Regions from separate parts of the Homo sapiens genome. Here regions 2, 3 and 4 are each reported to be linked to region 1. The links are microRNA targets in miRTarBase. Many come from high-throughput screens and were not tested one by one. Region 1 holds a microRNA gene; each other region holds the end of a gene's coding sequence.
The links. The annotated mature microRNA hsa-miR-548t-5p reads CAAAAGUGAUCGUGGUUUUUG and lies in region 1 at 2,139-2,159, shown strand. An mRNA with a match to its seed (bases 2 to 7 or 8) in the 3' UTR can be bound and repressed. Matches are read on the target gene's strand: a 7mer-m8 pairs with bases 2 to 8, a 7mer-A1 pairs with bases 2 to 7 and ends in A, and an 8mer does both.

Region 1 (3,247 bases):
ATGGATCACTTGAGGCCAGGATTTCGAGACCAGCCTGGCCAACATGGCGAAACCCTGTCTCTACTACAAATACAAAAAAATTAGCTGGGCCTAGTGGCGTGCGGCCATGATCCCAGCTACTTAGGAGGCTGAGGCACAAGAATTGTTTGAACCCGAGAGGCGGACGTTGCAGTGAGCTGAGATAGCACCACTGTACTCCAGCCTGGGCAACAAAGCAAGACTCTGTCTCAAAAAGGAAAAAGAAAAAGAAAAGAAAAGAATTTTAGAACTGAAGGGGGCCAGAGGGGTTCCTTGGTACTGTGAGAGATCCCTCACTTTGTGGATAAGGAATCCCAAGTATAAACAGTATGTGATCATCCAGGATTAAATTAAGTGGCTGAGAAGAATGAATCCAGGTCTTCTAGGACCGACCTTTCACTATACCAGACAAAAGAGCACGAAAGTGTGTTGATCAGAGCAGTAGTTTTAATTGTAGTATTTTTGATACATTTGTGAAACATTTTATAGTAATAAAAATTTTTACTTAGGAGCAAAAGAAGTATGTTATCAATCCCAAGGTAACTCTTTTTAAATGTGGACATATAAAATTCCAATTATATGTAGAAGGGCCTCTGCTTAAATCTAAGTTGTAAGAAGTTATACTATTAATAAGAGAACAGATATAAAAATAATAAAATCCTGCCATTTTCGGCAACATGGATGAGCATGGGGGACATTATGTTAAAAATAAGCCAGGCACCGAAAGACAAGTATTGCATGTTCTCACTCACGTGGAAGCTAAAAAATTTGATCTCATGGAGGTAGAGAGTATAATGACGGCTACCTGAGGCTGGGAAGGGTGTGTGTGTGTGTGTGTGTGTGTGTGTGTGTGTGTGTGTGTGTGTGTGTGTGTGTGTGGAGGGCTGGGATGTGGGATAAAGAGGGGTTGGCTAATGGCTATAAACATACAGTTAGCTGGAAGGAATAAGTTCTAATGGTCAATAGGACAGCAGGTGACCATAGTTAACAACAATGTATTGTGTATTTCAAAAGGGCTAGAAAAGAATATTTGGGATGTTCCCAACACAAAGAAATGATAAATGTTTGAGGTGGTGCATATCCTAAATACCCTGCTTTGATCATTACCCATTATATGCATGTATCCATATATCACATGTATCCCATAAATAGGTACTATTATCATATATTAATTTTTAAAAGCCACCTTAGTATGGCCTAGAAGTAGAGGATCAGTGTTGAGGGTATGGGCAAAATTTACCATTGTACCATGCCTGTCACTTAGATCACCCTCCAGCCTGGCCCCTGAAACGCGTACCTGAATGCTAGGGAGATACACTGAAAGAGCATTCCATTAAAATGCCTGTCAAACTGAAGGATGGCAAATTTCTGTACTTGAGGGTTTGTGGACACCCATAGGCAGATTACCAGCCAGTGGCTTCTGCAGCGCCAGGAAACCATGCCTGGGCACAGACCAGCAAATGTCATCAGCAATGGCCATTCCTTAGAATAGGCACAGCAGGGGGACCAGCTTCACAGGACCAGGGGCCCCTTTGCAGCAGAGTCTTCACCTCAGCAAGCAGAGCTCACAGAAAATGAGGGGTGCTGCATGGTATCCGAGAGTGCCAAGTTCATAAATACACATGAGGTTCACTTTGGGAATCCCATACAGAGCTGAAAGAGTGATGAGCATGATATTGAGCATTTAGGGAGCTTTGGTTTCCTCTTCTAGCAATTGTGGATAATAATACTTGGCTTGTAAAGTTATTGTGGGTAACAAATGTGCTAAAGGACATAAAAGGCATATCACACATGAGCTCCACCGGTTGGAGGTCACAGTTGTTGGAGGCCACCTTCATCCCTTGTGTGGCATAGAGAAGCTTCAGAAGCTCTTTTTTCTGTATAGGCCTCTCATCATGCCAGGTGTGTGGTATTCAGCCTTATCTTTAAAATATGGTACCCTCTTCATTGTATTTCATCCTGCCGTCTTACTACAAAAGAGGAGGAGTCCTAAAGGAAGTTAGTAAATACAAAGAAGTTCTTAAGGTCAACCTAAGATAAAGAAATGCTTGCTTGTAAGTGCTGGGTGATTGAATCTATAATTTGCGTCAAGAGAAGTGAAGAAAAATGTTAGGGTGGTGCAAAAGTGATCGTGGTTTTTGCAATTTTTTAATGACAAAAACCACAATTACTTTTGCACCAACCTAACCTTGTTTTAGGCATGTATCTATTTAAAGACACTTTATTTTACCTATAACGTTGATGGGTTTACATTGAACTCAGGGCCAATAGCACTGTAACTCGCACCCAAACAAAGCTTGTCTCACGTGGATTTTCTGCACAGGACACAGCACAGCATCTTTGTGCTTAGGATACCAGGTAGCACACTGACATTATTCTCGGGAGGCTGTTTTAAACAGCAAAATTACCAACTAAAAGCACAAAAATGAGAAAATCTGTGGCACCAAACAAACTGCAAATAGGACACTTGTTTTCTCTCTCGTTTTTTTTTTTTTTTTTTTTTTTTTTTGAGATGGAGTCTCGCTCTGTAGCCCAGGCGTGGCGCCATCTTGGCTCACAGCAAGCTCTGCCTCCCAGGTTCACGCCATTCTCCTGCCTCAGCCTCCCGAGTAGCTGGGACTACAGGCGTCCACCACCACGCCCAGCTAATTTTTTTTTTTTTTTGTATTTTTAGTAGAGATGGGGTTTCACCGTGTTAGCCAGGATGGTCTCAATCTCCTGACCTCTTGATCCGCCCTTCTTGGCCTCCCAAAGTGCTGGGATTACAGGCGTGAGCCACCGCACCCGGACACTTGTTTACTCTATGAGCAGAAACAAGAAACAGAACATCCTCGTGTGCATGCCCATCAGGCATCTCCAATTGCAATCCACATTTGTGGACGTAGAATCCACAAATAATAAGGAGCCACTGAATTTTTGTATATTTAGTATGGGGCTCAGGTTAATCACAGAAATATTTACTATATAGTTAGTGGGCAAAATGCCCAGTACCCCATTATAATAAACCCAAATCTCAGTAACAGTGAAGATGTTTCTCAGAGGGGCATGGCTCCTCTGATGTTTGTCAGATAAGCATGTCTTATTATAGGGGCACTCAGACAACAGAGGCACAGAACAAAACAAAATATTTTTTGTCTGTTAATTTATTTCAAAAATGAAATCTGATAATGGCTTTTAGAAATGTGAAGACCAAAAAGCATCAAATTTTGTTTTTCCATTTAAGGAATAG
Region 2 (3,000 bases), not on the chromosome of region 1:
CATGCAGCATGCAGAATTTACTCATGTTAAAAGGTTTCCTCCCATTTTTTCAAGCACGGCTGATACTCAGGACACAAGCAGCCTAGCTGTGTTGGGTGTTAAAACATTTAAATACTGTTGGAAAACCACCTCTCTTCTGAGCTTCCTGAGAAGTACTCCTCCAGCGCTGGCCTTGGACCCATACATCTCCCTTTGTGTCAACAGCTGGCACAGCACAGAATCCTGACCTAAAGCTACAGTCAGCTATACTGTCCCAACTACTGGTCAGTGCCTGTGCTTTCTCAGGAGATGATTTTATAAATCTTTTTTTTTTTCTTTGAGAGAGTTTCGCTCTTGTTGCCCAGGCTGGAGTGCAATGGCATGGTCTCAGGTCACTGCCACCTCCACCTCCCAGGTTCAAGTGATTCTCTTAACTCAGTCTCCCGAGTAACTGGGATTACAGGCATCCGCCACCATGCCTGGCTAATTTTCGTATTTTTAATAGAGACAGGATTTCACCATATTGGCCAGGCTGGTCTCGAACTCCTCACCTGGGGTGATCTGCCCATCTCAGCCCCCCAAAGTGCTGCGATTACAACTGTGAGCCACCGTGCCCAGCCTATAAATCATTACTTTTAAGAGACAGCATCTATCTAGCCCAAACTGGAGTACAGTGCCATGATCCTAGCTCACTGTAGTCTTGAACTCTTCCCGGACTCAAGGGAGCCTCCTGCCTCAGCCTCCTGAGTAGCTAGGACTACAGGCGTGCACCACCACACCCAGCTAATTTTAAAATTTTCTGTAGAGACAGGATCTTGCTACATTGCCCAGGCTGGCCTCGAACTCCTGGCTTCAAGTGATCTTCCCGCCTCGGCCTCCCAGAGTGCTGGGATAACAGGTGTGAGCCACCATACCCAACCAGGTGATATTTTTGATAACACTTCTGCTTTCAGAGAAGATTCTGGGGTGTAGTCAGGACATTACTATCTAGACTAAATATCTGTAGTATCAAATCCTATCTTTATATAACAGCACTGGCTTCTTGCCTACTGATGTAATTAGGGAGGTTACAGGGAAAACCCTTACTATTAAAATTGTATTTGCATCTTAGTGTGACTGCCCGACTTATTAGGTCATTTCCAATAAAACAGTTACCCGAGAGGATGGCTCTTCAGGAAGGGAGAATAAAAGGGAGAGGTAGATGGAGAGCATGAAGTACCTGGAGAAGTCAACCTCGAGGGCCTAGAGTGGGGTGCTAAGAGAGAAGGCATTAAAAATAGGTTTACGAAGATGCCCCCGTTTTTTTTATGAGATGAAGTCTTGCTCTGTTGCCCAGGCTGGAGTGCAGTGGCACGATCTTGGCTCACTGCAACTTCCGCCTCTGGGCTTCAAACAATTGTCCTGCCTCAGCCTCCCGAGTAGCTGGGATTACAGGCATGTGCCACCACACCCGGCTAATTTTTGTATTTTTAGTAGAGACGGGGTCTCATCATGTTGGTCAGGCTGGTCTCGAACTCCTGACCCCAAGTGATCCGCCCACAGCCTCCCAAAGTGCTGGGACTACAGGCATGAGCCACCATGCCTGGCTGGAAGACGCCTTTTTAAATATATATATTTTTTTGTCACTCTAATAAAGTCAGGAAGGTGCCTGTTAATTCCTTTGACCTATGTTGAAATTTGCACTCTTAATGTTACTGTTAAACCAAATAAGCCCTTTTCAACAGATATGAAGGACAGCATAAAAAAACCCAAAAATCTCATTTCACCATATTAATAAATGGGCTAACTGCCAGAACTTGGGAGTGAAGATGCTTAAATATTTTAAAATTTTTATTTGAATGAAATCATTGTAATAATCATTAAAGTGATTTGAAATAGAATGATCTCTGTGAAAGGAAGTTTATAGCATCACTATTTATAGGAGAGAAAGCAGCAGAGGTATGCATCTGGAAGTGAATATAACATTGTAAAATCAGCCCACATTAAATACCAAAAAAGTAAGAACCATCAAAATGCAGCATTATTTACAGGATTAAAAAGTGTGAACAGTACAGAGTTAAACTTTCTTATGTGTGAATTTTGACCTGCTATGTTGTTAGCAAAAAGCTTTAGTGTTTGTATAAAATGATGTGTACCCTTATCCCAACCACCACCAGATCAAGACACAAACTGACAATGATTCCTTCCTTATTTTACAGCTTTATTACTGATTTCCCTCTAAAAAGAGACTCAAGTGTGGAGCTGACTCATCTATAGATTAAGGAATCACAAAGTACCATAGTCACTTAACAAATGCAAAAAAAAAAAAAAGCAATTGTTTTACCTTTCAACTGCTGATGTTATGTACAATCTATCACAAAAAGCATAGCTGTGCATTCATGAGCTGATTATATCAACCTCTAGAATTTTAGAAACGAGCACATCTAAGCATATGGATACTCTCTTACCTTACAAAGTAAAAGCATTTTCTATTTTAAAATTTTTATTTCTGTGTAAAACAAAGAATTCCTAGAGGTCAAATAATATACCAAACTTAAAGCACTATTAAGTCATGAAACAAAGAAGATTCTGAGGTAGAAGTCAAGCAATATAATCCACAGTTTCAGGTATTCCCAGCAACCATCGCATTTCGCAAGTAAGATCTATTTTTTTTAAAGTCTCAACTTCCAAAAAATCAATAATCCATTCTGTAAAATCAGATGTAAAACTATGACCAACAGAAGACACCCAAACTTTTCTCATGGTAACAGAGTAAATGCTTTTACTAAAAGCTGCCAACATTTCTATCAGTAGTAACCGTAAGGAGGCCGCTGGTTGTAACCATAATGTCCATATTGCTGGGGATAGTAAGGTTCTTGTCTGTGTTGCGGGTAGTTGTTACCCCAGGATCGTCCATGCCACTGATTGGATCGATTGTCACTTGGCCACCCCCATCTGTTGTCCCTGCCTCTGAACTGTCTGTTGTCTTGCAACCTACAACAATAAAACAAAAAAGATCTTTAAACTTCCCTTGTTAAAAAA
Region 3 (3,247 bases), not on the chromosome of region 1:
AGTGAAACCCCATCTCCACAAAAAATAGAAAAATTAGCCAGGTGTGTTGGTGGACACCTACTCAGGAGGCTTAGGTGGGAGGATCACTTGAGCCTGGGAAGCAGAGGCTGCAGTGAGCCAAGCTGGTGCCACTGCATTCTAGCCTGAGCAACAGAGTGAGACTCCATCAAAAAAAAAAAAAAAGTATATATATATGTGTGTGTGTGTGTGTGTGTGTGTGTGTATGTATGTATATATATGTATATTTATATATCAACATCATATCCCCCCTGATGTGATGCACTAAGGGCCTTCCCAATAATGCATAACCTCAATTTAATATAGGAAAGCATCTGTCAAACCCAAATAAGAAGAACATTTAATAAAATAACACATCCTCTTCAAAAATATCAAGGTCATGAAAGCAAGGAAAGGCGGAAGAGCTGTCATATACTGAAGGATCCTGAGGAAACATGGTAACAAAATACAATGTGGGATCCTAGACCGGATCCTAGAACAGAAAAAGAACATTTGTGAAATAACTGGTGCGATCTGAACAAATTCTGTAGTTTGGTAAACAATATTGCAACCAGGATTAACTTCTTAGTTTTGATCACTGTTCTGTGATTATGTAAGGCATTAACAAAAGGAGAAGCTGGGCAGAGGGTATACGGAAACTCTTGCACAATTTTTTCAACTCTTTTGCAAACCTGAAATTATCTCAAAATTAAAAGCTAAAAAAAAAGAATAATCTTTAGGTTTTAAATTATTAGGTATCAGAATGTTGGGTCTGCTGCAAGTGAGATAAAGTGGAAAAGGCACTAGACCAGCAGTTCACCCCATCCCTGCCAGTGGTTTTGAACCTGAAGAGAATCATACAACCTCCCTGAACCTAAGGCTCCATGGCCAAACAGGTTTGATACACAACTCATCTACCTCAAAGGTTACTTAAAGATCAATGACACAAGTAGTTAAAGTTGTCCAGAAAGGACACGTTCACAGACAACACAAGCATTAATGTATCTCTAGCCCTAAGAAAACTCTATTCAGGAGAGATTTTCCAGGAATGAACTTGAGATAAAATACTAAATACAGAAGCAAGGTAACAGCAGACTGTTCTTCAGCAAAAAAGGAAAGGTTACAAAAATAAAAATAAAAAAACATGCTGAGGGCTCTATCAGGGTACAGAAAGAGCAAGAAAGTAGGACAAGCAGAGAGTGGAGCAACTGGTTCTTCTCCTGTGCCTCTTCCTTCCCTCTCTGCTACCTAAAATTTAGCATAGCAGACTACATCAAGGAAGAGGGAAAACAGCGGTGTTCCCGACATCACCAAGGAACTCAGAGCAGCTTTAGTATATAAGGTGGCTTGGAAACGAGGGGGAAACTACTTTCCTGTCCTAAAAGCAAACAGGTCTGAACTAAAAGCTATCATCTCTGAAGAAATCTTTTGGCCTTTCAGGTTTATTCTAATTTTAGAATGACTGGGATCGATGCTAGGCATCACTCCTCGCCATTAGACTAAACACAAACTAATCAAATGTTTGGATCTTCTCTACACTACTAATGAGGCAATGAGTAGAAAAGAAGGGGTTTCTGGTCCCAATTTAATAAACAGCAGAGGCATATTTTCTCAAGTTGATTTTATTAACAAAAAGTGCAAACTATTTTGAACAAAAGTAAACTATGAGTCACAGCATTCAGCAAGACATCAGACACGGAAGAGTGAACAATATTCACTAAGTAAAATACAGCAGATGAGATGTCTCTCACATGTATATTTAATTATTCATGCTTTTTCAATAGTCTCTTAGTCAACTTTCAGTGTAATTTCCACAAATATATAGCAGCTCAAACACAAATGCAGGAGCACAATGGCAAAGTTTGGCAACTGTTTTGGGCTAATTATGAGTATGAAAGAAAACCTTATATCACAGTTTCACGTTCATGTAAGCCACTGTGCAACATGAATGAATCTTTAAATGTGTTGACACTGAAATCAATGTACAACTAATGAAAATAAAGAAGAAAAGGGGGCTTTAAAATATTTGTTGCACTACAGTCGTATAGTAAGAGGCAGAAAAAAATGAAAGAATTTTAAATAATCTTACACGTGTCTACAGGGCCAGGAACGTAATGAATCCATGTTAACTTAATTTCATTTAAAATTACATTTGTAGAAGTCACACAACAGAAAGATACCATGCGGTTGAACAGTGTGCCTGTACTTGAACAAGTGAGAGAAGATACATACTCCAAAAAGGAGATTCAGTCTAGTGTTACTTCAGTTATTCACATAGTGTCTACAGGGCAGAATCTCTTCCAAAGCAATTTTCTGTTCACTAATCTACAGGCACTAATGGAACTGTAATTAAAACCCCAAATATAAAGATGATTATTTAAACACAACTAAGCTCTAGCCAAAGACAGTAGAGCACCAATGCCGGGCGGGTTACTGACGGCATGCAGGGCCTGGAGGTACATTTTCTGGCAGTTAACCAGCCTTCTGCTGTAGTAGACAAACTGCCTTTTGTGAATGTACAAATTTGCTAAATTAATAGAGAACTACATTGTTATTTCCTTACATTACAAAGAACTCTTCCCATACTGTTTTTCCCATGTACTACTGCTGTCTTAGACTAAACTGTGCCACCTTCCAACAGTTTCCAAATTACTATTTCAGGTCGAGATAATGAAGAAATAAGACCAAATCTGATTATCTGACTGATGACAAATTTGAGCACCAACTACAGCAAAATTCAGGGTCAAGGTAGCTTGCAAGTCAGTTCTCTTGATTTGGCAATTACCTTCCACTATTTTCATCTGTATTGAAGCTGAGATCTTCAGGGCCTATTTGTTCACCATCAGGAAAACTGGAATGTGTATCTATGATTAAAAAATAAATAAAAAATTTAAAATTTAAAAGCATATAACAAGGGCAGTATTTTCCTTCCCAAGTCTTTAAATAATCTTACCAAATGTGTTATTTAAGTGATAAAGATGTGCTGGGTTGTGAACAAATCTCTGTCTTCAGAGAATTTGTGATCTGAGTCAGGTATAAGCAAACACAAAGGAAAAATAAAGGAGAAAAAAACAAAATGTGTAATAGACACCCACAATTAAAAGATGACAGGAATTGTCTCATTTTGTCCTCCTGGGGACAATCTGGGGACAGCTTAAAAAGGGAACAAGAAGCAATGGTGTATATTCTCAAGATTCAAGACCTTATAAACATAAAACATATTTCAAAGCCAATTAAACTACGCATTCAA
Region 4 (3,247 bases), not on the chromosome of region 1:
AAATCTTTTAACCGCAGTTCTCACCTTGTTATGCATCAGAGAATTCACACTGGGGAAAAACCGTATGAATGTAATCAGTGTGGGAAATCCTTCAGCCAGAGTTATGTTCTTGTTGTACATCAGAGAACTCATACTGGAGAAAAGCCCTATGAATGCAGTCAATGTGGGAAGTCCTTCAGACAGAGTTCATGCCTTACTCAACATCAGAGAACTCATACTGGAGAGAAACCATTTGAATGTAATCAGTGTGGAAAAACATTTAGCTTGAGTGCTCGACTTATTGTGCATCAAAGAACTCATACTGGAGAGAAACCCTTTACATGTATTCAGTGTGGAAAAGCTTTCATTAATAGCTATAAACTTATTAGGCATCAGGCAACTCATACTGAAGAGAAACTCTATGAATGTAACTAGTTTGTAAATCAGCTGGGATTTCTTCCTTTTTATTTCATTCTTTTAAAAAATTTATTTTAAGGTAGTACATGTAGTTGGAAGAACTACTATAAAAACAATATATGTGGGAAAACTTCCAGCCCTCTGTTAATTGTGTGTCTCAAATTTGTTCTGGAAAAGAAAGGGGGAAAGTCTATGAACGACTTTTCAACCTGGCAATTCCATATACAATGTTAAACTTGATTCTTATGACATATTCCTATGAAAATAATAAATACTGGCACTTTTCCTTGCAGAAAGCACTCAGACCTGAATCAGAGAAAATCATATGCCAAAGCCAACTGCCAGTGTTAGACCTCTTTTTCCATAAAGAGTAAATGGAATGCTAACACTAGTGGGCTTATTGAGAAAATTTAAAGGTTGCTGTAGTGTTTAGAACTTAGGCTGGAAAACCATATTTTAGTGCATCATTTTACTACATGATCTTCCAATTAGATAGCTTGTAATCTGTTCCTTACAGCACTTGCTGTTGTTACATGTGAAGATTTTATAAATTTTAGGAAAGTGTCTATGATATATAGTGAAAAGTGTGGGAAAAGAATATAGAAATAATATTCACTTCTAAAACCATTATGATAAAATATTTGTGTATGGATTAGAATAGAAAGGGATTATGGATGTATCTATTCAATTTCTCAGTTTATGTTGGGCCTTCCTTTTTGGAATGTACGCTGTTATGCTATGATAAATGATATAATGAGTAAAAATTATTCAAAGCCAAAAATGAAATACAAAGATTTCCTTCTTTGACTATTTAGGAAAGACTAAGCAACCAAATAGCAAAGATCCCTCAGGATAATGAGGTTTATGTTTGGAATAGCATGAGCAGATTACTACTTAGGACATAGATTCCTAGGAACATTCCTCATTGAAAATAAAATGGATTCCTGGAAATAGGTAACTAGAAATTTTGGCCAGAAATGGTTTCATATGAAGAACTGAGAATGCGTGGGAAGTATAGAGGGCAAGTGGGCTTATTTTCATATATGCAAAGCAATATTAAGGAACTCTATTTTCATGTTTTAGTTCTTCCCCTCATGTAGCATTGTCTCTTTCCTCTGGGATATGTTCCCTGATGTGAGAGTCCTCTGAATAGAAGGGTGCTTCCCTGGCTCAGTGCTGACCGTCTAAATTATGCTTGCAAAAATGCTTTCATGAGGCAAAGTTTTAGTTACTCTTTGATATTTAAGATTTGATTAACATGTCTTTCTGACCTTTCCCTTGAATCATGAATTTGAATCCTGTGGATGACCATATATTGAAGCCTCTGATCCCAGAAAGGTAATAAGCTGAAAGTTGAACTGAGAGACCAGATAATAGAGGTTAATACCCTTGGGATAGGAAAGAAAACTTAAAGGGTAACTGATGGGGTTATCCTTAGCAAAATTCTATCCCTATGAGATGACCCTAAGTGGAGCCATCTCTATGAGGATTAATCCAGAGATTGTTGCACACCTGGCAGTGTCAGGTCTGGGAAAACAGTTGCTGATGTTTTCATGGAGTGTGAAATACTGAAAGCTGCGGGCATCCCTTGGGGACCACTGACCCACACTTTGAAGAACCCTCAATGAGTCTGAAAGAGGTTCAGTATCTCTTGGGAAGGATGTGTTCCAGGCTCCAGGCCTAGTCTTACATGGCCAGTGGGGTTGAAAGACTGTGCCCCTGCAATGGTCTTTTCCTAAGACAGTTGAACAAAGTTCCAAGTCTGTCTGTCCTATTTTAACCATCTTTAAGAAGCACAAAGGGGATATGAGAAAAACAGATGCTGAAATGAAAATTTTAACTGATATCTTACTTATCTCACAAGTCGTGTAAAGAAAGAAATGATATGGTCGAATATTAGATTAGATGGTTTAATGATGTTTTGAGTGTTATATATGAGCTATGATGAGACCTAGAAAATAAAGTAAAAATAAAAAATATATAAGCCATGAACATTCTTCATATTCAGTGACAGTCTGCCTGCCACACCCAGGAATTACAGAGACACTCATAGACCTCACGGGATCCTCCCCTATGTCTCCCATCTCTTCACCACCAGCCCTCAGGGAGTCTCATGTCTCCCAATTACTCTCCAATCATTCCTAGATTTCTGTAACAGTCAGGCCCTGACACCCATGTAACAAGCAGAAACTCAGGGACCTCACAGGGCTCTGGCCCCATGTCTCCCAACTCTTTACTCCAGGCCCTCAGGTACTCTCCTGTGTCTCCCAGATTCTCTCAATCCCCAGCTTACTGCAACATTCAGCTTCCCAAACCCAAGTATCACCTATAGACAAAAATCTCAGGGCCCTCTTCTATCACGTCTCCCATCTCTTCACCTGCAACCCTCAGGGACTCTCCTGTGTCTCCCAGCTCCTCTCCAACCATCCCCAGATTTCTCCTTGGGTCAGCCCTGAACACACAGGAGTCACCCAGAAACTCATAGACCTCACTGTGCTCCTCCCTTATCTCTGTCACCTCTATACCACCATTCCTTAGGGCCTCATCTGTGTCTCCCAGCTATTCTCCAAGCATCCTCAGTTTTCTGCAAGAGTCACCCCTCAGCATTCAGGAGAACCCTAGAAATTCACAGAGCTCACCAGATTATTCCCCAACTACCTCCACCTACACAGCAATGGCTCCCACATACTCCCTGGGGGCCCCACACCTATCTTCCTTTACACTCAGAGACTCCCAGGGCCTCACAGTCACTCCCCATTATCATCATTCAGCTGTAAGTCCTTGCAAATCTCCTGGCCAACGTGATGCATTTACCTGCCCATTTCTCCACATTCCTGCTCAGGGTCCCACA

Region 2: the mRNA of RAMAC is a reported target of hsa-miR-548t-5p. Seed matches in the 3' UTR shown: 7mer-m8 at 2,015-2,021.
Region 3: miRTarBase lists TRIM37 as a target of hsa-miR-548t-5p. Seed matches in the 3' UTR shown: 7mer-m8 at 1,629-1,635.
Region 4: miRTarBase lists ZNF180 as a target of hsa-miR-548t-5p. Seed matches in the 3' UTR shown: 7mer-m8 at 675-681.

What each region holds. Positions count from the first base shown.
Region 1 is chr4:173,266,031-173,269,277 of GRCh38, forward strand. MIR548T (microRNA 548t) reads left to right here and starts at 2,130; the gene lies at 2,130-2,203. All of the region lies in intron 2 of GALNT7 (polypeptide N-acetylgalactosaminyltransferase 7), which reads left to right. LOC124900812 (a long non-coding RNA gene) reads right to left here. Exons shown (of 3, transcript XR_007058367.1): 2 at 1-3,247.
Region 2 is chr15:82,989,833-82,992,832 of GRCh38, reverse strand. It overlaps RAMAC (RNA guanine-7 methyltransferase activating subunit), which reads right to left. Exons shown (of 4, transcript NM_031452.4): 4 at 1,776-2,952. The coding sequence ends at 2,766. It also overlaps a transcript of C15orf40 not described here. Among named protein-coding and RNA genes, the nearest start is that of RAMAC, 5.1 kb to the right of the region's middle.
Region 3 is chr17:58,996,599-58,999,845 of GRCh38, forward strand. TRIM37 (tripartite motif containing 37) reads right to left here. Exons shown (of 24, transcript NM_015294.6): 24 at 1,604-2,861. The coding sequence ends at 2,779. Among named protein-coding and RNA genes, the nearest start is that of TRIM37, 110 kb to the right of the region's middle.
Region 4 is chr19:44,473,569-44,476,815 of GRCh38, reverse strand. ZNF180 (zinc finger protein 180) reads left to right here. Exons shown (of 5, transcript NM_001278509.3): 5 at 1-2,373. The coding sequence ends at 414. Among named protein-coding and RNA genes, the nearest start is that of ZNF180, 25 kb to the left of the region's middle.